Regions from separate parts of the Homo sapiens genome. Here region 2 is linked to region 1. The links come from fine-mapping of genetic effects on plasma protein levels. A gene starts in region 1. The other region holds a variant in brackets. All regions are shown on one strand. Distances are between the middles of the regions.

Evidence for each region. A credible set is the group of variants that fine-mapping cannot tell apart. PIP is the posterior inclusion probability: the model's chance that the variant is causal. The UK Biobank Pharma Proteomics Project read protein levels with antibody pairs (Olink). The fine-mapping took linkage between variants from a reference panel, not from the people measured, so its PIPs are less certain.
Region 2: its variant is the best candidate, but not a certain one, in a credible set for the plasma level of the SIGLEC8 protein (UK Biobank, PIP 0.68).

Annotation. Positions count from the first base shown.
Region 1 is chr19:51,454,245-51,464,555 of GRCh38, reverse strand. It overlaps SIGLEC8 (sialic acid binding Ig like lectin 8), which reads left to right and starts at 6,102. Exons shown (of 7, transcript NM_014442.3): 1 at 6,102-6,622; 2 at 6,817-7,095; 3 at 7,325-7,372; 4 at 8,869-9,138; 5 at 9,776-9,872; 6 at 10,241-10,311. The coding sequence starts at 6,169. It also overlaps the pseudogene SIGLEC25P. RefSeq lists an enhancer at 591-1,339.
Region 2 is chr19:51,432,096-51,442,406 of GRCh38, reverse strand. No RefSeq gene overlaps it. Among named protein-coding and RNA genes, the nearest start is that of SIGLEC10, 20 kb to the right of the region's middle. RefSeq lists enhancers at 355-494, 795-1,084 and a silencer at 3,605-3,775. The variant A/C (reference allele first, on the strand shown) is at 4,303.

The DNA of each region.
Region 1 (10,311 bases):
TAGTAGATGGGAAAAATGCAATATAATCGTGATGAAGAGTAATGACTTTGGGTTGATATGGGCCCTTTCTCTCTCTGTCTCTCTTTTTCTCGATGAAATCGGCTTTATTTTCTCACACTTTACCCACTGCACACTTTCGAAACACTTCTTGCTACTCAACAATATTTTTGTGGCCGCCGCACTAGGATACAGGCGCACTGCGGGCAGAATTTTGGCCGTTTTTTTCTCGCCGCTGTTTCCCCCACGGCCTTTGGCTGCGCCCTGCTCGCTGCTCTGGGATGAACTTGCCTTTCAGGCAGCCCTGCCCATCTCTCACCTCCCAGCTCACCTGTCCCACCTGCCCGCGGATCCTCACCCTCTCCGCTGGGCTCCCACAGCCCCGTCCTCCCCGCTGGCTCAGCCCGGACCCCGCCAGGCTGTGCCCGCCTCTGTCTCCCCTGCCCGTGGCCGGTGCCCCTCCAGGCTCCGCCTCGCCCAGCCCAGACGCCCAGGCGGCTCCGCCCCATAGATGGGAGGCAACTGCCCAGGGTGCAGGGGCAGCGAGGGGCTGCGGCTGAGAGCCCTGCCCGGTCCTGGGGAGGGAGGGAGAGTGTGGGTGGAGGGGGCAGCCCTGCAGATGTCAGAGACAGGGCGGCAGCAGCACAGGTTTCCTCTGGTGAGGAGCCCTTCCCTTCCCTTTTCTCCTTCCATCCTCTGAGCATCCCATGTTACAGGCTGTCCCAGACCCCTGTGGGACTCTGCATCCACCGCGGTCCACACCGGGCTGTGCTCACAGGAACACATCGAATCCTCTCGACCACTCCATGGACTCTCTTGCCAGGGCCGCCTTGAGAAAGGAACACAGACCGAGTGGCTTCACCAACGCCTTTGTTTTCCCACCCTTCTGGAGGCTGGAAGTCTGAGACCAAGCTGTGGTCAGCGTTGCTTCCTTCTGAGGCCTCTCGGTGGCTTGCGGGTGGCATCTTCTCCCTGTGTCCCACGTGGTCTTTCTCCCGAGTATGTCGCTGTCCTAATCACACCTTTTTTTTTTTTTTTTTTTTTTTTTTGAGACAGAGCCTCACTCTGTCGCCCAGGCTGGAGTGCAGTGGCACCATTTTGGCTCACGGCAGCCACCGTCTCCCGGGTTCAAGCAATTCTTCCGCCTCAGCATCTGGAGTAGCTGGGATTACAGGCACATGCCACCACGTCTGGATAATTTTTGTATTTTTAGTAGAGACGGGGTTTCACCATGCTGGTCAAGCTGGTCTCCAACTCCTGACCTCAAGTCATCTGCCCGTGTCGGTCTCCGGAAGTGCTGGGATTACAGGCCTGAGCCACCACACTCCACCCCTAATCACCCCTTCTAATAAAGACACAGCTCATGTAGGATGAGAGCTAACAACTTCATTTTAACTTAGTCACCTTTTTATAAGTCCTCGTCTCCAAATATGGTCACTTTCTGAGGTGCTGGGGGTTAGGACTTCAGCATAGGAATTTGTAGGGGACACAGTTCATCCCTGACACCCCGTAAGTGTTGACATCCGACGATGCACAGTGCAGGTAAGCCCCCTCCCAAGACAGCACCGTGGGTTTTACAGAGCCCAGCTCAAGCCAGCAGCCATCCAGCTACAGAGCCTGTACCCCTGAACTCTCTCTGTGAGGCCTCAGCTGAGGAAGCCCCAGAGCAGTGTGGACCACCAGGAGCTCCTTACTGAGGGCAGGACTCCGAGTGACCCCTGAGAATGGTTAGGGCCAGACACGTGGATGCTTCGGGCCTGCCCAGGGACACAGAGCATGTTGGCCATGCCTGAGTCTGCAGAGAACGTCGCCTCCTCGAGCTGGGTTCTCCCTCAGGCTGAGGGGTGGGTGCTGTGATCCCTCCAGGGGACAGATGAGGAGACTGAGACTTGGAGGGAGAGGGCCCAGGACCCTCACACTCCAGAGCCAGGGCCTCCCCTAGCATCTTGGGCTCAGCCTTGCTCCCCATGCTGGGCTCACAGGGCCTCGGCTGTGCAGTCACCACCAGGCATGCTGGGCAGGGGGCACTGAGAAGGTTAGGAAGGCTGGGGACCACCTGTGGGGCCGCATGCTCACAGCACCTCAGAGTCCTGGTCCCGTCCACTCTGCCCGAGTATACCTGAGACCGCACCTTCTAGCTGCACAGGGCCCTCGGGGTTCCACAAGCCCTGCCTGTGTTTCAAGCATCACAGCCCTTACTAACAGGAGCTGGGGTGGCCCAGGGCTCCTCTGCCCCCTCGTTCATTAGGGAACTTCCCAAGGAAGGAGACAGAGTCTGTCACACTCTCCCCTTTGCCTCCATCCCCCTGAAAGGAGGAGATGCTCCTGATGTGGTGATTGTGCTCATTCATTAAACATCACCTCTCCCGCCTCGGGGGACCCCTCCCCATCTCTCATGCCTCGTGGTTCCTCCGCCAGCCCCTCCTGAGTCCCAGCTCTGGCAGGACTGACCCTCCCGAGCACCTAGAAGCTGTAATGGACAGGCAGTGCCTGCTTCCCTGGTGTGGACAGTGCTGTGGGAGGGAAAGGCTGTGGGCAGAGAGCCTGCAGCTGTGGGTCGGGGCCTCCCTGCTGTGTGTGGCCCACACTGAAGACCCATCCGGAGAGTAGAAATGGCCACTCCCCAGGAGCCCTGACAGCTCTGGCAGTGTCGGGGCCAAGGTCCTCTTTTGTGGTCAGTTATTTTTCTGATCTTACCCCCAGGCTTCCTGTGGGGCCCTTCTAGGGCCCTGCGACACCAAGGCTCACCCTAAAGAAGCTCACGCTGCAATAGCTGCTGCCCCTGCTGTGGGCAGGAGAATGGGCCTCAGGGAGAGGAACCATGGGGCTGGGCTGGGCTGACCCTCATTTCCCCACAGGGGATCTGGCTCAGGATATGAGATCCCGGCAGGAAGCCCCAGAGTTGGTGCAGGTGCAGGAGGGTTTCTGTGACTACGCACTGCTCCATCTTCCACCCCTGTGGGTACCTGTCTGACTCCAGCCCTGTCCAAGGCTACTGTCCCAGAAAGGGGACATTTCCATCAGGATCCTCAAGTGGCTGGAAGCAATCTAGTTGGAAAAGAGCAGGAGGAGACCCAGAGCCAATTCCACCTGCTTCAGACCCCAGGCCAGCACCTGCTTTCTGGACGTCAGAGACACACAGAGGCGAGATGCAGGGACAGACCTCTTTAGGGAGAAAAGGGAGATCTATGTGAATGTAATTACAGAAATGCTCTATGTGCATGTGAAGGGTAAGGAATGAGGTTATGAAAGGACACACGAATGGGGGTTCCCAGGGCAGTGAAGCTGACACATCAAATTAACTGTCACACTGCCCAAGGAGGCAGTGCTCAGCTCATACACAGAAACACACAGGTACACACAGACACTCCCTCTCCCTCACACACAGGGTCTCTCTCTCTCTGTCTCTCTCTCTCTCTCAATCACACACACACACACACACACACACACACACACACACACACCCAAGCATTGGGCATTCTGGGTACTGAGATGCGCTGTGTCCTTCCCTTTGCCCTGGGAAGCTGGGTCTCCCCTGAAAAGGTGAATGGCGCTAGTTGTCAGGTCAAAGAGACCCTGGGACATCGTCTTAGGATGAGAGAACTATTTGGGATGCCATTTTATGGATCCCTTGCCTGTCACTGTATGTGTCTCTCTGGGCCACCTGTGTCCATGTGGGTCACCAATCCCCATGTCAGGATTCAATGATTCTCTGCTCCCTAAGGCATAGCCCGTGGTGTCCCACACGCCCTCCTTGCCGTCCAGCAGGTGAACAAGTGAGCGGCTATCGTGTCTCCCTATGAGATGGGCCAGTGGTCAGCGTCAATATGTGAGAGCTGCAACAGCTCCTGCCCCTACACGGACCCCTCAGGGCTGCTGCTCCAACTTCCCCCTTCCCTTGTGGTGAACTTTGTCCAGGAAGCAAACAGGGAAGGGGATTCTGGGAATTGTAGTTCCAGCCTGGCTAAGTTGCTGGAGAGCAAGGCCTGCACAGGAGTCTTCACTGAAGGCTTCAATTACCACTTGGGGACCATGGAAAAGACCTGTGCCATGGCTCGGCCCTTCTGACTATTGAGATACTGCAGCTGTCTCTACTGGGCAAGGATAGGAGGCCCAGGAGGGGGAAATGGCTGCAGAATGAGATACCAGCTACAAATGCAAGCATTGGTGATGGGGGTGGGAGTCGGCTATGCACACCCAAGCCCTGCACCTTCCCTTCTCAATTATCACAGCCGAATGATCTACTCCAGGTTATAAGTAATGAGGGGAAGATAGGAGACGGGCAGATCCATGAAGCTGAGTGGAAGAAAGTAGAGTTTGATTTTCTGTGTATACAAAGTCTTCAGAAAAACGTGCAAAAGCTTAGTAAATGCAGCCTGCTCAGATAATAAAACTATATAGAAAAGCATTGAGGCAATTTGCACCAAAGTGAGGCTAGGGGATCGTTTGGGAGGGAGTGGGGTGTGGCCAATAAGAAGGAGAAACAAATGAGCAGCGCTGGGGACTTTGTCAATGTGCCATTTCTAGGAGGGGGCTCGTTGTATGTAAATCACTGAGGTCTTCTTTGGGGGTTGTTTTTATCTATATTTCTTATATTTACCCCCCAAAAAATGTTTCAAGAAAATTGACCTGAGTCTAAGGAGGCTCCGCCTCCCAGGATCCCCCTTAACTTCTTCCCAGCCCCCAGCCACACAGTTTAAAATAATCTGTTGAGGCCAGGCACGGTGGCTCACACCTGTAATCCCAGCACTTTGGGAGGCTGAGGTGGGTGGATCATGAGGTCAGGAGATCCAGACCATCCTGGTCGACATGGTGAAACCCCGGCTCTACTAAAAATACAAAAATTAGCTGGATGTGGTGGCGTATGCCTGTAATCCTAGCTACTTGGGAGGCTGAGGCAGGAGAATCGCTTGAACCAGGGAGTCAGAGGTTGCAGTGAGCCGGGATCGCGCCACTGCACTCCAGCCTGGCGACAGAGAGAGACTCCGTCTCAAATAATAATAATAATAATAATAATAATAATCATCATCATCATCATCATCATCATCATCATCTGTTGAATTCAGGTGCACATTTCTTCTCTCAAGAAATCCTGCCCATCGCTGAAGGTGCACACCCCAGGGCTGGTGTCCTCGTTCCATGACACCTGTTCACCTGGACCCCTGGAAGCAGAGCCTGCAGGAGCAAAGCCCCAGGGCTGACAGACCCCGCCTGCTGTGCAGTAACCAGGGGAAGTGTGGCTGAGTAAGATACGGGTGGTGAAGAAACCCATTCTGATACCCAGATAGCTGCAACAAAGGGAGAAGTGTGTGCCCTTTTCAAATTGACCCTTTCCCTTCTGACATTTCTCCCTTCCAAACCCCACAGTACAACAGTTACAGCCTCAGTTTCCCAGGCCTCCTGCGAGCCAGGCTTCCCCCCGCCCCCCGTCCTTCGTGTGTATCAACATGCAGAATCCTCACCTCCACAGCCCCGTGTCCCTCTGCTCAGGCCTCCTGAGACTGAACCCCTGACCTAGGGGAGAACGACCCCACCTTGCCTGTGCCCCCCACTGAAGCTCCCGTCCTGGGGAGCTCAGACGTCAGGAGCCTCCGTGTCTCCCCTCTGCACAGTGACTCCTTGAGGACAGTGTCTGGCTCTGCTCTGTTGACCTCGTTGTGTAAAGAGGAGGTGCCCACTTCGTTGCTGCTGAGAGAGGGAGGAGAGGCTGCCTGCTCACCTCACCTGCACCCCAGTCTCTCATGGCCCTGAGTTCCACCTTTGGCTGGTATGACCTCCACAAACAGTGACAGCCCCGGGGGTGATTCAGGGGTCTGGCCAGATGGGACCCAATTTCACCTTGCAGAAAATGTTACCCAAATGGAAGGGCAAGTCCGGGAAGCAAGAAAGAGGTTGGGCCCTGCATAGGGTGGGAATCTGGATGAGTTTCTCACCCTCTCTGGCCTCAGGGTTCCCAGGAGTGGAAATGGGGTGGTGGACAGTGGATCTCCCAGGACTGACCCGGCCCTGACAGTGTCTGTGTGTGAAGTTCCTCCTCTGAGGAGGTCACTTTTCTGACTTCACCCCCAACCTCCTGCGGGACCTCCCCTAAGTCTTGAGACCTCAGTTTCTGAGAGAAGAACCCTGAGGAACAGACGTTCCCTGGCGGCCCTGGCGCCTTCAAACCCAGACATGCTGCTGCTGCTGCTGCTGCTGCCCCTGCTCTGGGGGACAAAGGGGATGGAGGGAGACAGACAATATGGGGATGGTTACTTGCTGCAAGTGCAGGAGCTGGTGACGGTGCAGGAGGGCCTGTGTGTCCATGTGCCCTGCTCCTTCTCCTACCCCCAGGATGGCTGGACTGACTCTGACCCAGTTCATGGCTACTGGTTCCGGGCAGGAGACAGACCATACCAAGACGCTCCAGTGGCCACAAACAACCCAGACAGAGAAGTGCAGGCAGAGACCCAGGGCCGATTCCAACTCCTTGGGGACATTTGGAGCAACGACTGCTCCCTGAGCATCAGAGACGCCAGGAAGAGGGATAAGGGGTCATATTTCTTTCGGCTAGAGAGAGGAAGCATGAAATGGAGTTACAAATCACAGTTGAATTACAAAACTAAGCAGCTGTCTGTGTTTGTGACAGGTAAGGCACGGGCTCCAGCACAGGCCACAGGGGAAGGTCATGAGGGGCTGAAAGGCAGGGCTGGGATGGGGCCTGGGAGGGGGTTGGGATTGAAATAAGTCGGTCTCCGGGGAGGAGCTGGACCAGAGCTTGAGCTTCCTCCAGGGCTGCACCTGAAATACCTCCTCCTGATCCTGTGTCCCCATCTTCACCAGCCCTGACCCATAGGCCTGACATCCTCATCCTAGGGACCCTAGAGTCTGGCCACTCCAGGAACCTGACCTGCTCTGTGCCCTGGGCCTGTAAGCAGGGGACACCCCCCATGATCTCCTGGATTGGGGCCTCCGTGTCCTCCCCGGGCCCCACTACTGCCCGCTCCTCAGTGCTCACCCTTACCCCAAAGCCCCAGGACCACGGCACCAGCCTCACCTGTCAGGTGACCTTGCCTGGGACAGGTGTGACCACGACCAGTACCGTCCGCCTCGATGTGTCCTGTGAGTGCTGGACCAAGATGCCCAGGTCCCTCATGGGTTGGGAGGTGTTCCTGAGGGCAGGGGATGGGGTTCAAGCCTGGACACTGGGTTCTGGGTCCCAGAATCTGGGCTGGGAGTGGGGTCAGGAGAATGCCGACTCCATTTTCCCTGTATTTGCAGCTCCTGGGAAGACAGGGCCAATGTCCCCAGTCCTTATAGTAATGTGGGTCTTCATGTCTTTCTGTCCCAGACCCTCCTTGGAACTTGACCATGACTGTCTTCCAAGGAGATGCCACAGGTAGGACAGAGCCCCCTCCCTGGGGTTGGGGGAGCAGGGCCTTCAGCTCAGGATGGGGCTGGGTCTCTCCTCATCCTGGAATCACTTTGGGAAACAGAGCTGCCACTGTGCGTGAGCCCAGGGCACAAGAGCCCACATCTCCAGCCCGCGTGACCATCTGAGCCCCTGTCCCCATCCTGTCCCTGCTCCCCTTAGACTCCTCCACACACCCCTTCCTTGGCCCCACAGCAAGGACAGGGTGACATTCACACAGCTGGATCAGACTCCCAATTTTTTTGGTTTTTGTTCGTTTTTATTTTGGGACCAGACTTTCAAGTTTCTTGTCAGGCATCTCCTGAATACTTCCTCTGTCTGATCTTTCTGTTTTCCCAGTAGTTTCGATCTAAGTACTTCTGCCCAGATGATACAGTCACATGGGCAGAAATTCAAAATGCACAGCAAAGTCTGTCCTCCAGTGCCCATCCCCCTCCACGGAACTGACCAGCGTCCGTCCAGGCTGCCCTGAGTCTTGGTTTGTGCACCTGGAGGATCTCAGAGGTGGTTTGACATCGTAGTGAGACTGTCCACCCCGTCCTCTAGGACCGTGTGTGATTTCACTGCACAGATGGACTCTGACTTTGTGGCATCCCTTAAGGAAAATCATGGCACAAATATCCTTCCGCAGAAACTGTGCAGTGGATAGTCTTGTATCTACTTCCACAGGAATATCTAAGTGTATGGGATAAATTCCTAAAAGCAAAATATACCAGTGTCGTATGTTGTTTCTAATTTTGAAAGATGCAGTGAAGTTGTTCTCAATTAAAAGTGGACAAGTTTACATTCCCAGCACTGAGTGTGCGTTTTCCTGCACTTCAGTCTATGTCTGTGTGTCAGTCCCTCTCACTAGTCTCTTTCTGTGTCCTTCCTCTTTCTCTGGATCCATTTGTCTCTCTGACCCTCTGTCTCCTTTTATTATTATTATTATTATTATACTTTAAGTTTTAGGATACATGTGCACAACGTGCAGGTTTGTTACATATGTATACATGTGCCATGTTGGTGTGCTGCCCCCAGTAACTTGTCATTTAGCATTAGGTATATCTCCTAATGCTATCCCTCCCCCCACCCCACAACAGTCCCCGGTGTGTGATGTTCCCCTTCCTGTGTCCATGTGTTCTCATTGTTCAGTTCCCACTTATGAGTGAGAACATGCGGTGTTTGTTTTTTTGTCCTTGCAATAGTTTGCTGAGAATGATGGTTTCCAGCTTCATCCATGTCCCTACAAAGGACATGAACTCATCATTTTTTGTGGCTGCATAGTATTCCATGGTGTATATGTGCCACATTTTCTTAATCCAGTCTATCATTGTTGGACATTTGGGCTGGTTCCAAGTCTTTGCTATTGTGAATAGTGCCACAATAAACATACATGTGCATGTGTCTTTATAGCAGCATGATTTATAATCCTTTGGGTATATACCCAGTAATGGGATGACCCTCTGTCTCTTTCTCTGCAGCATCCACAGCCCTGGGAAATGGCTCATCTCTTTCAGTCCTTGAGGGCCAGTCTCTGCGCCTGGTCTGTGCTGTCAACAGCAATCCCCCTGCCAGGCTGAGCTGGACCCGGGGGAGCCTGACCCTGTGCCCCTCACGGTCCTCAAACCCTGGGCTGCTGGAGCTGCCTCGAGTGCACGTGAGGGATGAAGGGGAATTCACCTGCCGAGCTCAGAACGCTCAGGGCTCCCAGCACATTTCCCTGAGCCTCTCCCTGCAGAATGAGGGCACAGGTGGGTAAGGGAGGGGCTGGAGGAGGAGAACACACCTGCCCCACCCTCATGGACCACCCACTGCCCCTGAGCTTCAAGGGGGAGCTCAGCTCTGGTCTGTGCTCAGCTGTGAGGCCTGGAACTTCCCTGCGACCCAGAGCATCACTGTCCTCTCCCCGCCAGGAAAGGGGTGCGGGGTGGGGAGAGGGGAGGAGTGGGTCTTGGAGGGGAGGAGCTGGGGCCCGGCCAGGTGTGTTTGGAGGGACAAGCGCCTTGCTTTGCAGTGCTTAGACTAGGATGAGGCACATGAGGCACTTGCCTTGGCACCAAATTTAAGAAGCCAAAGAAAAACCCAACTCAGAAAGCAAGTAAAGTAATATTGCAATGCCATGATCTTTTGAAAAAACTAAAATTGAATGCAAAATGATTCCACAAGAACACAATATCAAAATTGTAAATAAAGGCAAGACAAGCTGCATCCAGCACTCTCATGCCTCACTGGCCTCAGAAGTAGTCTCCTTTCCTCCCTCCCATTCGTATTCTGTGTCTGGGAAGGAGAAGAGGGGAATGGAAGTCTAGGGCCCTGCAGACAGTGGGAGGGGAAGAGACCCACTTCTCCGTGATATAAATCCCCAAAGCAACTCCAATCCATCTGCAGGCACCTCAAGACCTGTATCACAAGTGACACTGGCAGCAGTCGGGGGAGCTGGAGCCACAGCCCTGGCCTTCCTGTCCTTCTGCATCATCTTCATCATGTGAGCATTGACCCTGGGGAGGGAGAGAGAGACCTGGGGCAGGGCAGACCGGGAACAGAATCCCTGAAGCCAGAGCTGGAAGGACCTGGATGGGTCCAGGGCTTGGGGCAAGAATGAGCTCACGGGTGCACGGTGAGCATTTCACGAGCGTCCTTGTCTGTGGGGCTCCACATCTGTAGCAACCTCGGGCCCCACCATCCATGAGGCAGGAGCCTCTGTTTTCACCGTTGGGGTCTCTGGAACTGGACCACCGCCGTTGCGCCTCGGTCACCCCTCAAGCCCCCAGTAGGAAATACAGGGCAGGGGTTGGTCTGCCCACTGCACCCCGATCTGACCACACTGAAAGGCTCTCTGGTCTCTTCACTCAGAGTGAGGTCCTGCAGGAAGAAATCGGCAAGGCCAGCAGCGGGCGTGGGGGATACAGGCATGGAAGATGCAA
Region 2 (10,311 bases), 22 kb after region 1:
AGCATGGCAGTGGTGGGCATGGTCTGGCTTTGTAGCTGGCTAGAAAGGAGAACTGTTAGCTTTTTGGCATAATTCTAAGTTCCACACCAAGGATCCTATTTTATCACTTGGGTGGTGAGTAGAGAAACAAACACAAATGCCAACAAAAAATCCGACAAGCTGGTGCCATCCTCACCATTCCCGGCATGAGTGCTGCCTGCACCGCGGCACACACAGTCTCCCCTGCTATGGCTGGTGGGCCAGTTCCGGTTCTTGACTTTGCCTCAAGAAAAGAATTCGAGAGTGAGTCCAAGGTAAAAGTAAGCAAGAGAGTTAATTGCAAAGTGAACGTGCACTCTTAACAGCTGGTCAGAGCGGCTGCTCAAAGGTGAGACAGCGCTGACTGACGCTGGGGAAACTCCCTTTAGGGGAATCTTCCGTGATTACTCATGCGTGGGTGGGACGGTGTTGCTCTTAAGCGTGTTCTGGGTGGTCTGTTAGGCCCGCATGCGCAATGGCTGTACATGCTAGTGCATATACATCGCTGTCTCAGTAGCACCTTAAGTCTCCACGTGAGGGTGTGTTTTCACTATTATAATGAGCATAGGTCAGCCCAAGGACACTACCTAAGCATGGGTTTCTGCACTTGCACGGATATGGGGACTGTCCCTTCTTCCCTTCTACCTCCTTGCTACAGGATGTTTTGACCACGAGCCCAGGATGCGGTTTATGCGCTGTCGGGGTTTGCGAGCTGTCCGGCGGATTGTTCTCTCCGTCTATTTAGCAAATGTGTTTCCCTTTAAGGGAGGCTGTGTAAGGGAGGCTGTGAAACGCCTGTCTAACCTACTTACGCTGCAGCTGCACCAGGGAGCAACACAGAGACTTCACAGGAAAACTGGAAGAAACCACAGACCTTTCTAAAGAAGCGGTGGGCAGCAGCCTACACCACGAGCCAGGCAGAAAACTGTGAGTCCCCACAGTGTGAGAAGGGGAGAGACTGACTCAGGGATGTGTATTCTTTTGTAGCCTTTCCTTCGGGTTGAAGAGCACTTAGGTTGATTCTGTATCTTTCCAATCATTGAATTTTCTCAACTTTTTGCTTTTTCTTCTCCCTCAAGAACACCTATGAGTCTTAGATTTCGGGCAAGTCTACTTTCCCCACTCAAGATGACATTGCAGATCTCAGTCGGGAGCTTCTCTCAACCCGTGACCGCCTCCTGAGTCAGCTAGCTGGCTTCTGCAAGGCCCCCTGTGAGGTAGCATCGGGAATGGCTTCCCTCTGTCCCTGCTGGAGCCCAGGACTGCACGCCAAGCACATCCCAATGTGACTCCTTATCTACTCCCCAACGCTCCCTAACTCAGCTCCAGTGCTGGGCAGGGTGAGGGCTTCCCCCTCCTGTGGCCTGGACTGCGTGGCACCCCAGTGGGAGTGCACATCCCTGAGTCAGTCTCTCCCCTTCTCACACTGTGGGGACTCACAGTTTTCTGTCTGGCTCGTGGTGTAGGCTGCTGCCCACCGTTTCTTTAGAAAGGTCTGTGGTTTCTTCCAGTTTTCCTGTTAAGTTCCTGTGTTGGTCCCTGGTGAAAAGGTCACAACATAAATCTTTATACACTGTTTCATCTTTCCAAGGTGGGAGAGGCCGGCTAACAATGCCTGCAATCTGCCATCCTCTCTTTTCAGTTTTGATGTGTTATATACACTCATGCACATATACATAATGTTTACCAAAGTGGGATCATATTCTTAAATGTCCTTTATTAGGAATTCTGAAACATTAAGGGCAAATTTAATCAGAGGAAGGTGAATATACAGCTCTGAGTGTCTAGCATATATTTACAAAATATCTCAAGTCTTCTGTATCTAGATATAATTACAAAATATCTCTGAAGTCTTCTGTTTTACTCTGAAAGTCCCTATGAATGTTTGTGGCCTATGGAAAAACACGTTTCTGTTAGTTTCAACGGGAAAATAATGCATTCATTGTCACTAAAGTTGTCTGATTGACCTGACTCAGTATTTGAGTATAAATGACATCCCCAGAAGATATGCAAAGTGGACCTTCTGCCTTTAGCTCCTCTGAAGCACTTTTCACGCCCTGCCCTTGGGTCCTGGATCCCCACTGGAGAAGCAACAGCTCTGCACCACTACTGTTAATTATTCATGGCTGCATAGTATTCCACTGAATTTGATGTGTGTTGACTTATTCAACCAATACCCTATTTAGGAGCATTAAGCTTTTTTCAATTTGTTTTGAAACAGGGTCTTGCTCTGTTGCCCAGGCTGGAGTGCAGTGGCATGATCATGGTTCACTGCAGCCTCAACCCTCCAGGCTCAGGCAGTCCTCCTGCCTCAGCCTCCCGAGTAGCTGGGACCACAAGCATGCACTACCATGCCTAGCTAATTTTTTTTTTTTTTTTGTAGAGACAGAGTCTGCCTATGTTGCCCAGGCTGATCTCAAACTCATGGACTCAAGCAATCCTCCCACTTCAGCCTCCTTAAGTGCTGAGATGTAGGCTTGAGCCACTATGCCCAGCCAGTTCTTTCCATTTAAAAAATATATATAGACAATTTTTCCCAGAAGCATATGACGGGATAGACATAATTTTTAGAGCAGTTTAGGTTCACAGATTGAGCAGAAGGTACAGAGATTCTCCATATACCACCTGCCCCCACACATGCATAACCTCCTCTATTATCAGCATCTCCCACCAGAGTGGTACATTTGTCATACTTGATGAACCTCCATTGATACGGTATTAGCACCCAAAGTCCATCGTCTATATCAGGGTTTACTATTTTGTATACACAGCAGCATGCACAGCTTTTGCCTAGTCCGATTTGTAGATCCATGAAGAATCCCAGAAGTAGACTTGTGTGGGAAACACATGAACCTTGCCCAGAGAGAAATCTGGCCTTCTGGAGCACCTTGTCCAAAACCCTGTCTCTTCAGTCAGGAATAGCAGTATCCAGGGCTCACCTGGGGGCGGGTGGCAGCCTGGGGAGCAGACCCAAGGAGCTCTCAATCCATTTCTGGAGCCCAGCTTTGTACCTTCTTACCAAGAGAGCAGAACGTCACAGTCCCTCCCGGGGCAAAGTCCTGCCCGGTGCAGCCAGAGTGCACACTAATGAACAGCCACTCCTCCCCATTTATCAGGCCTGGAGACCAAATGGAATGTTAACCTGGGATTTTTGAGGAGCTGTACACAAGGTGGGGTTCCCTACCTGCTCCCTACCAGCATCCTTGGGGCCCTGTCTAGGCAAACCCCATCACCCCAAATGTATCATATCACTAGGGGGAGCCACAGAGTTGCACAATGCATCAACCCTCATCTTTGTCTACAACCTCTGGTAGGAGTAAGAAGTGGATAGAGAAGGTGAGAGGCAGGACCTCCCAAACGGCTTCCAGAGAAAATGGGAGTGGGAAAAAAAAGTGACATTAACAATAGCAATAACATTACCAATAACCTCAGATAGTAACTACTTCCTGTAGTTACCATTCCTGTTTGGTAAGATTGTAAATCTTTGTTTTTGGGGGTTTGTTTTTTGTTTGTTTAGTTTTTTTTTTTTTCTTCTTCTTTTTTGAGACAGAGTTTCTCTCTCGTTGTCCAGGCTGGAGTGCAATGGCGCGATCTCGGCTCACTGCAACCTCTGACTCTCAGGTTCAAGCGATTCTGTCGCCTCAGCCTCCCAAAATAGCTGGGATTGCAGGCGCCTGCCACAACGCCCAGCTACTTTTTGTATTTTTAGTAGAGATGGGGGTTTCCCTATGTTGGCCAGGCTCGTCTCGAACTCCTGACCTCAGGTGATCCGCCCGCCTCGGGCTCCCAAAGTGCTGGGATTACAGGCGTGAGCCACCGCACCCGGGGAGTTTGTAAATCTTGACATAGGTTAGTCTCTGAGTGACAGGGTGGGAGTCAGGTGTCAAGAAGCATTTGGGAGTCAAAAAGGGTGGAGGAGATTGGTGCAGGGATCCTGGCAAATCTCTGGGTGAGCAGCAGGGGGCGCCCTGATCAGGGCAGGGAATGTTGAGTTGGATACACAGCCATAAGGGGGTGTCATGGGGCTGTGGGAAGTCCACGGACTCTGCCTCAGAAGGGAAATTACTTGATCTCTGTATGCCTCAGCGTCCTCATCTGCAAAGTGGACATCAGAGCTCCTACATTTATTAGCCTGAGAACAAAAACCAGGCAGAATAAATGAACAACCACAGCAGCAACAACAAACAAGAACAAGAGCCAAAAGCAAACAGAGAGATGAGCCCTTATATCATCGGACCCTGAAATCCAGCCACCGTTGAAGCCAGGTCTACCCCTCTGATTTCC[A/C]AGACAACAGAAATCAATGCTTTTTTTCATTAAAAGCCAAAAAAAAAAAAAAAAGCATGCTATAACATTGAATAGAAACAACTATGATTTTGAATGTGAATATTAATTATACTCTTGTGGTTCCTGGGCATTGCCTGATGCATGAATTGTGGGAGAGGCAATGAGAGCTGCTACAAAGCCCTATGGAGATGGAGATCATGCAGCAAATGGCCAAGGGCCATGAGCCTTAGAAAACCTGTCCTGGGGTCGGGCGCGGTGGCTCACGCTTATAATCCCAGCACTTTGGGAGGCCGAGGTGGGCGGATCACAAGGTCAAGAGATGGAGACCATCCTGGCCAGCATGGTGAAACCCTGTCTCTACTAAAAATACAAAAATTAGCTGGGCATGGTGGTGCGCGCCTGGAGTTCCAGCTACTCGGTAGGCTGAGGCAGGAGAATCGCTTGAACCAAGGAGGTGGAGGTTGAAGTGAGCCGAGATCGCACCACTGCACTCCAGCCTGAGTGACAGAGTGAGACTCCGTCTAAAAAGGAAAAGAAAAGAAAAGGAAAGGAAAAAAGAAAGCCATACACAGTGGCTCACATCTGTAATCCCAGCACTTTGGGAGGTCAAGGCAAGTGGATCATTTGAGCCCAGGAGTTGGAGACTAGCCTGGGAAACATGGCAAAACACCATCTCTAAAAAATAGGAAAAAAGAGAAAACCTGTCCTTATAAATTATGATGGCATCTCTACATGCAAACCTGTCTCCAGAGAAGGCACATTCCCATCCGCTCAATGCTGCTCATCCTCCTTAAGGAACTGAATAAAGCTGGGCATGATGGCTCACACCTGTAATTCCAGCATTTTGGGAGGCCAAGCTGGGAGGATTACTTGAGGCCAGGAGTTTGAGACCAGCCTGGCCAACATAGCAAAACCTCATCTCTACCAAAAATTCAAAAAACTAGTGGGACGTGGTGACACACGACTGTAATCCCAGCTAGTTGGGAGGCTGAGGTACAAGAATCTCTTGAACCAAGGAGGTTGAGGCTGCAGTGAGTCAAGATCATGCCACTGCACTCCTGCCTGGGTGACAGAGACTCTGGCTTGAAAAAAAGAAAGAAATTGAATGAGCTTTTTGCCCAGTGAGGAAAGATTTCTTGTATGTAAATTCATGTGCTCTTCCTTGTTCATCAAAAGTTATTTTCTGTACACTTCACATTCTCATTGATTACTAAGAGAAATTCCTCGTACATATCAAGCTTAATTAGCTTGTACTCTATGCCCGAATATCCCTATGTGTCTCACCATGGGGTGATTCCCTGTCCACCTTACCTTTTGAGCTTAAATCTTCCTTGGCGAAATCAGAATAACCTCAAATGAGAGCATAATTTCCTACTAATTCCATGTGCAGCCTCATATTTTCTCTGTTTCAACTTCAAAGTGTTATTTATTTTAGTTCCGAAAGGATGTGTTTCTTCATATTTTCATTTAGAAACAAGGAATAGAATCTAATTGTTGGACAAAAGTCAGAGATGGAAATTCTTATAAAAAATCCTCCTTTCTTTGTCAACAAGCCCAATGTACCCTGAGAATCATTCTTATCATGGATATCGAGTGTGGGAATAGGTCAATGGGGGATTGAACCTTGAACTTCTGAGGGTTTGAACCCAGAAGTTCAAACTCCAGTCAACCTATTCGCTCATAAAAACATGGAGGAAAGAACTGGATGTGGCTCCTCGTGGCTGTCGGGAAGATGCTGTTGGAGCTTACAGGATGGAGGTGTTGCTCTCCCTTTCAGCTGCAGGAACGGCATGAGCCTTGAGCTGGGGAGACCTCACATTGCACGAACATTGCTAGCCAGAGAATGAAGATGGCTCAGGCACCTGCAGCCCACCATGCGGAGAGCAAGAAACAGCACCCTGAGGGTCACATTGGATATCAGTGATGTGCTGATCTTGACCTTGAGTTAGGAGATGTTCCCAGATTCCCCACTGCCTGGGCCAAAAATTAAGCAAACGTGTTTTTTTAATAAAACCCTTCTTTTCCAGATTAAGCTATCGGTTTTCATTTCTGTTCCTTGCAATTTAAAAAAATGAGATTATCGAAAAAATGAGCAGAGGCTTTGCTGTAAGAAATTTCTATATAGATTTTTTTTCCGCATGATTATTTGTTGATCTAAACTCATGGCATGGGAGATGACAAGGTTTCAGTAAAATGCCTGTTATGAACTGCATGTTTATGTTCCCCCAAAATTCATATGTTGAAGCCCTAACCACCAATGTGATGTATTTGGAGATGGGGCTTTTTGTAGGTAATTATGTTACATGGGGTCATGAGGGTGGGGACCCACTATGGAATTAGTGCCTGATATGGTTTGGCTGTGTCCCCACCCAAATCTCATCATGAATTTCCACGTGTTGTGGGAGGGACATTGCGGCTGGTAATTGAATCATGGAGGCAGGTCTTTCCTGTGCTGTTCTCATGATAGTGAATAATTCTCACAAGATTGATGGTTTTAAAAAGGGGAGTTTCCCTGCACAAGCTCATCTCTTGTCTGCCGCCATATGAGACATGACTTTCACCTTCTGCCATGATTGTGAGGCTTCTCCGGCCACGTGGAACTGTAAGTCCATTAAACCTCTTTCTTTGGTAAATTGCCCAGTCTCAGGTATGTCATTACCAGCAGTGTGAAAACGGACTAATACAGTGCCCTTATAAGCAGAGACCCCACAGAACTTGCTGTCTCTCAACCATGTGAGGACACAGTGAGAAGGTGGCATCTACAAGCCAGGAAACAGAGCCTCACAAGAAAACAAATCATCTGACAACTTGATCTTCTAACCTTGGACTTCTAACCTCCAGAATTGTGAGAAATAAATTTCTGTTGTTTATAGGAGGCTTAATTTATAGTATTTTGCTATGGCAGCCCAGACTAGCTAACACAGTGCCCTAACCACATGTATTCCATGTGGCTACAGTATTCTCTGCACAGTGGCCAAGTATGGTGGCTCATGCCTGTAATCCCAGCACTTTGGGAGGCTGAGGCTGGTGGATCACTCGAGGTCAGGAGTTCGAGACCAGCCTGGCCAACATGGTGAAACCTGGTCTCTACCAAAAATGCAAAAGTTAGCTGGGTGTGGCGGCGGGCGTCTGTAATCCCAGCTACTCAGGAGGCTGAGGCAGGAGAATCACTTGAACCTGGGAGGCGGAGGTTGCAGTGAGCTGAGATCGCACCACTGCACTCCAGCCTGGGCAACAGAGTGAGACTGTCTCAAAAAAAATTATACAAAGACACTTTATTTGTAAGGTAATATTTAGAAGTTCAAGGAGCTGAGACTGTATTTCTTTGGGTGGCCATTATTCAGCTTGCTGAGCTGTCCATGTGATCTCTTATGCATTGGAACTCTTGTGCATTGCTGATGGGAAAGTTAAATGGTGAAGTTGCTCTAGAGAGTAGTAGTGGGGTTCCTCAAAAAAATTAAAAATAGAATGATCTTATGATCCAGCAATTTCACCTCTGGGTATATGGCCCAAAAGATCAAAAGCCGGAACTTGAGCATAGTTTTATGCATCTGTGTTCACAGAAGCATATTCACAGTAGGTAAAAGGGAAAAGCAACCCTGCTATTCCTAAAAAGTGAATGAATAAACAAAGTGTATTGTATACATGCAATTGAATATTACTCAGCCTTAAAATAGAAGGAGAAGCTGGGCTGGGGCATGGTGGCTCACGCCTGTAATCCCAGCACTTTGGGAGGCCGAGGTGGGCATATCACTTGAAGTCAGGAGTTCTAGACCAGCCTGGCCCACATGATGAAACCCCATCTCTGCTAAAAATATAAAAATTAGCCAGGCATGATGACATGTGCCTGTAATCCCAGGTACTCGGGAGACTGAGGCAGCAGAATCGCTTGAACCTGGGAGGCAGAGGTTTCAGTGAGCCCAATCATGCCACTGCACTGCAGCCTGGGCAACAGAGCAAGACCCTATCTCAAAAAAAAAGAAAAAGAAAAAGAAAACAAAAAACAAAACAAACAAAAAAACCAAGGAGACAGGCATGGTGGCTCACACCTGTAATCCCAGCACTTTGGGAGGCCGAGGCAGGTGGATCACCTGAGGTCAGGAGTTCGAGACCAGCCTGGCCAATATGGTGAAACCCCATCTCTACTAAAAAAAAAAAAAAAAAGAAAAGAAAATACAGGCCGGGCACGGTGGCTCACGCCTGTAATCCCAGCACTTTGGGAGGCCGAGGCGGGTGGATCACCTGAGGTCAGGCATTTGAGAGCAGCCTGACCAACATGGTGAAACCCTATCTCTACTAAAAATACAAAATTAGCCAGGTGTGGTGGCACGTACCTGTGATCCCAGCTACTCGGGAGGCTGAAGCAGGAGAATTGCTTGAACCTGGGAGGTGGAGGTTGCAGTGAGCCAAGATGACGCCACTGGACTCCAGCCTGGGCAACAAGAGCGAAACTCTGTCTCAAAAAAAAAAAAAAAAAAAAATTAGCCGGGCCTGGTGGCAGGTGCCTGTAATCCCAGCTACTCAGGAGGCTGAGGCAGGAGAATTGTTTGAACCTGGGAGGTGGAGGTTGCAGTGAGCTGAGATCACGCCATCACACTCCAGCCTGGGCGACAAGAGTGAAACTCCGTCTCAAACAACAACAAAAAAAAAAAAAAAAAAAAAAAAGAAGGAGAAGCTAGCACATGATGCAGCGTGGATGAACCTTAAATATATTCTAAGTCAGTCACAGCAGGACAAACACTGTATGATTCCACTTATATGAGGTGTGTAGAGGAGGCAAATTCACAGACACGGAAAGTAGAGCCATGCTTGCCAGGGGCTGTGATCAGAAAGAAATAGGGGGTTTTCACCTCTTTGATGCAGTTTCAGTTTGGGAAGGTGAAGAAACTTCTGGAGATAAATCATAGTGATTCATAACAACGTGAGTGTACTTGGTGCAACTTCTCTAAACACTGAAAAATAGTTAAAACGGTAATTTTTTTCTTCTGTATATTTTACCACAATTAAGAAAAAAGCTACTGAAGATTTCATAGCCACCTCACCAAAAAAGAAAAGCAGATGGCGAACAAGGCCGTGAAAATAGCCTCAATATAATTTGTCATTAGGTAATTGTAGAATAGAAGAAGAATGAGGTAGAATTACATACCTAAGAAAAATGACTGAAAAGTACAACAAAGGTAACAAGAAATTTTAAAATATGTGGATGATATCACATGCTAGCAAGGATGTGAAGTGATCAGAGCTCATGTCTACTGCTGGTAGGAATACAAAATGGTATATACACTTTGGAGAATAGTTTGTCAATTTTGTATAAATTTAAACTTACACTTGACCAAGTGTACGTCTGACCAAGCACTCGACTCCTAGGTTTTTACTCAAGGGAATTAAAAACTTATGTTCACACGCAGAAAGTTGAATGGAATGTTTATAGCAACATTATTTTAGAGTCACCAGAACCTGAAAACAGTTGCAATGCTCCGCAAATGGCAAATACATGCAAAATGAGAGACCATGAAAACAATGGAGCACCAGTCAACAATTAAACTAAAATGACAGATTTATACCCAGCCCCATAGATGAGCCTCAAAAGCATTATGCCAAGTAAATGAAGCCAGATTTTAGAGGATACATTTTGTATGATTCCATTTATATGACATTCTATAAAAAGGCAAAATGGCAGGGATGGAGAATAGATCCGTGTTTTCTCAGGGACTAAGTGTAGAGGGAGGATTGACTACCTAGAGTCAGCAGAGGGAGGAAATGTTCAGGTAATGACACTTTTCATTGTCTTCACAGCGGTTGTGTATATAACTATATGCATCGGTCAACCCACATAAAATTACATATGATAAAGAATGAATTCAACCATATCTAACTTTAAGTAAATTTTTAAAAATTAAACATAAGATGCCACTGCACTGTCACTAGAACTCTTAAAATATAAAGCATAAGCTGGGCACAGTGGCTCACGCCTATAATCCTAACACTTTGGGAGGCCAAAGAGGAAGA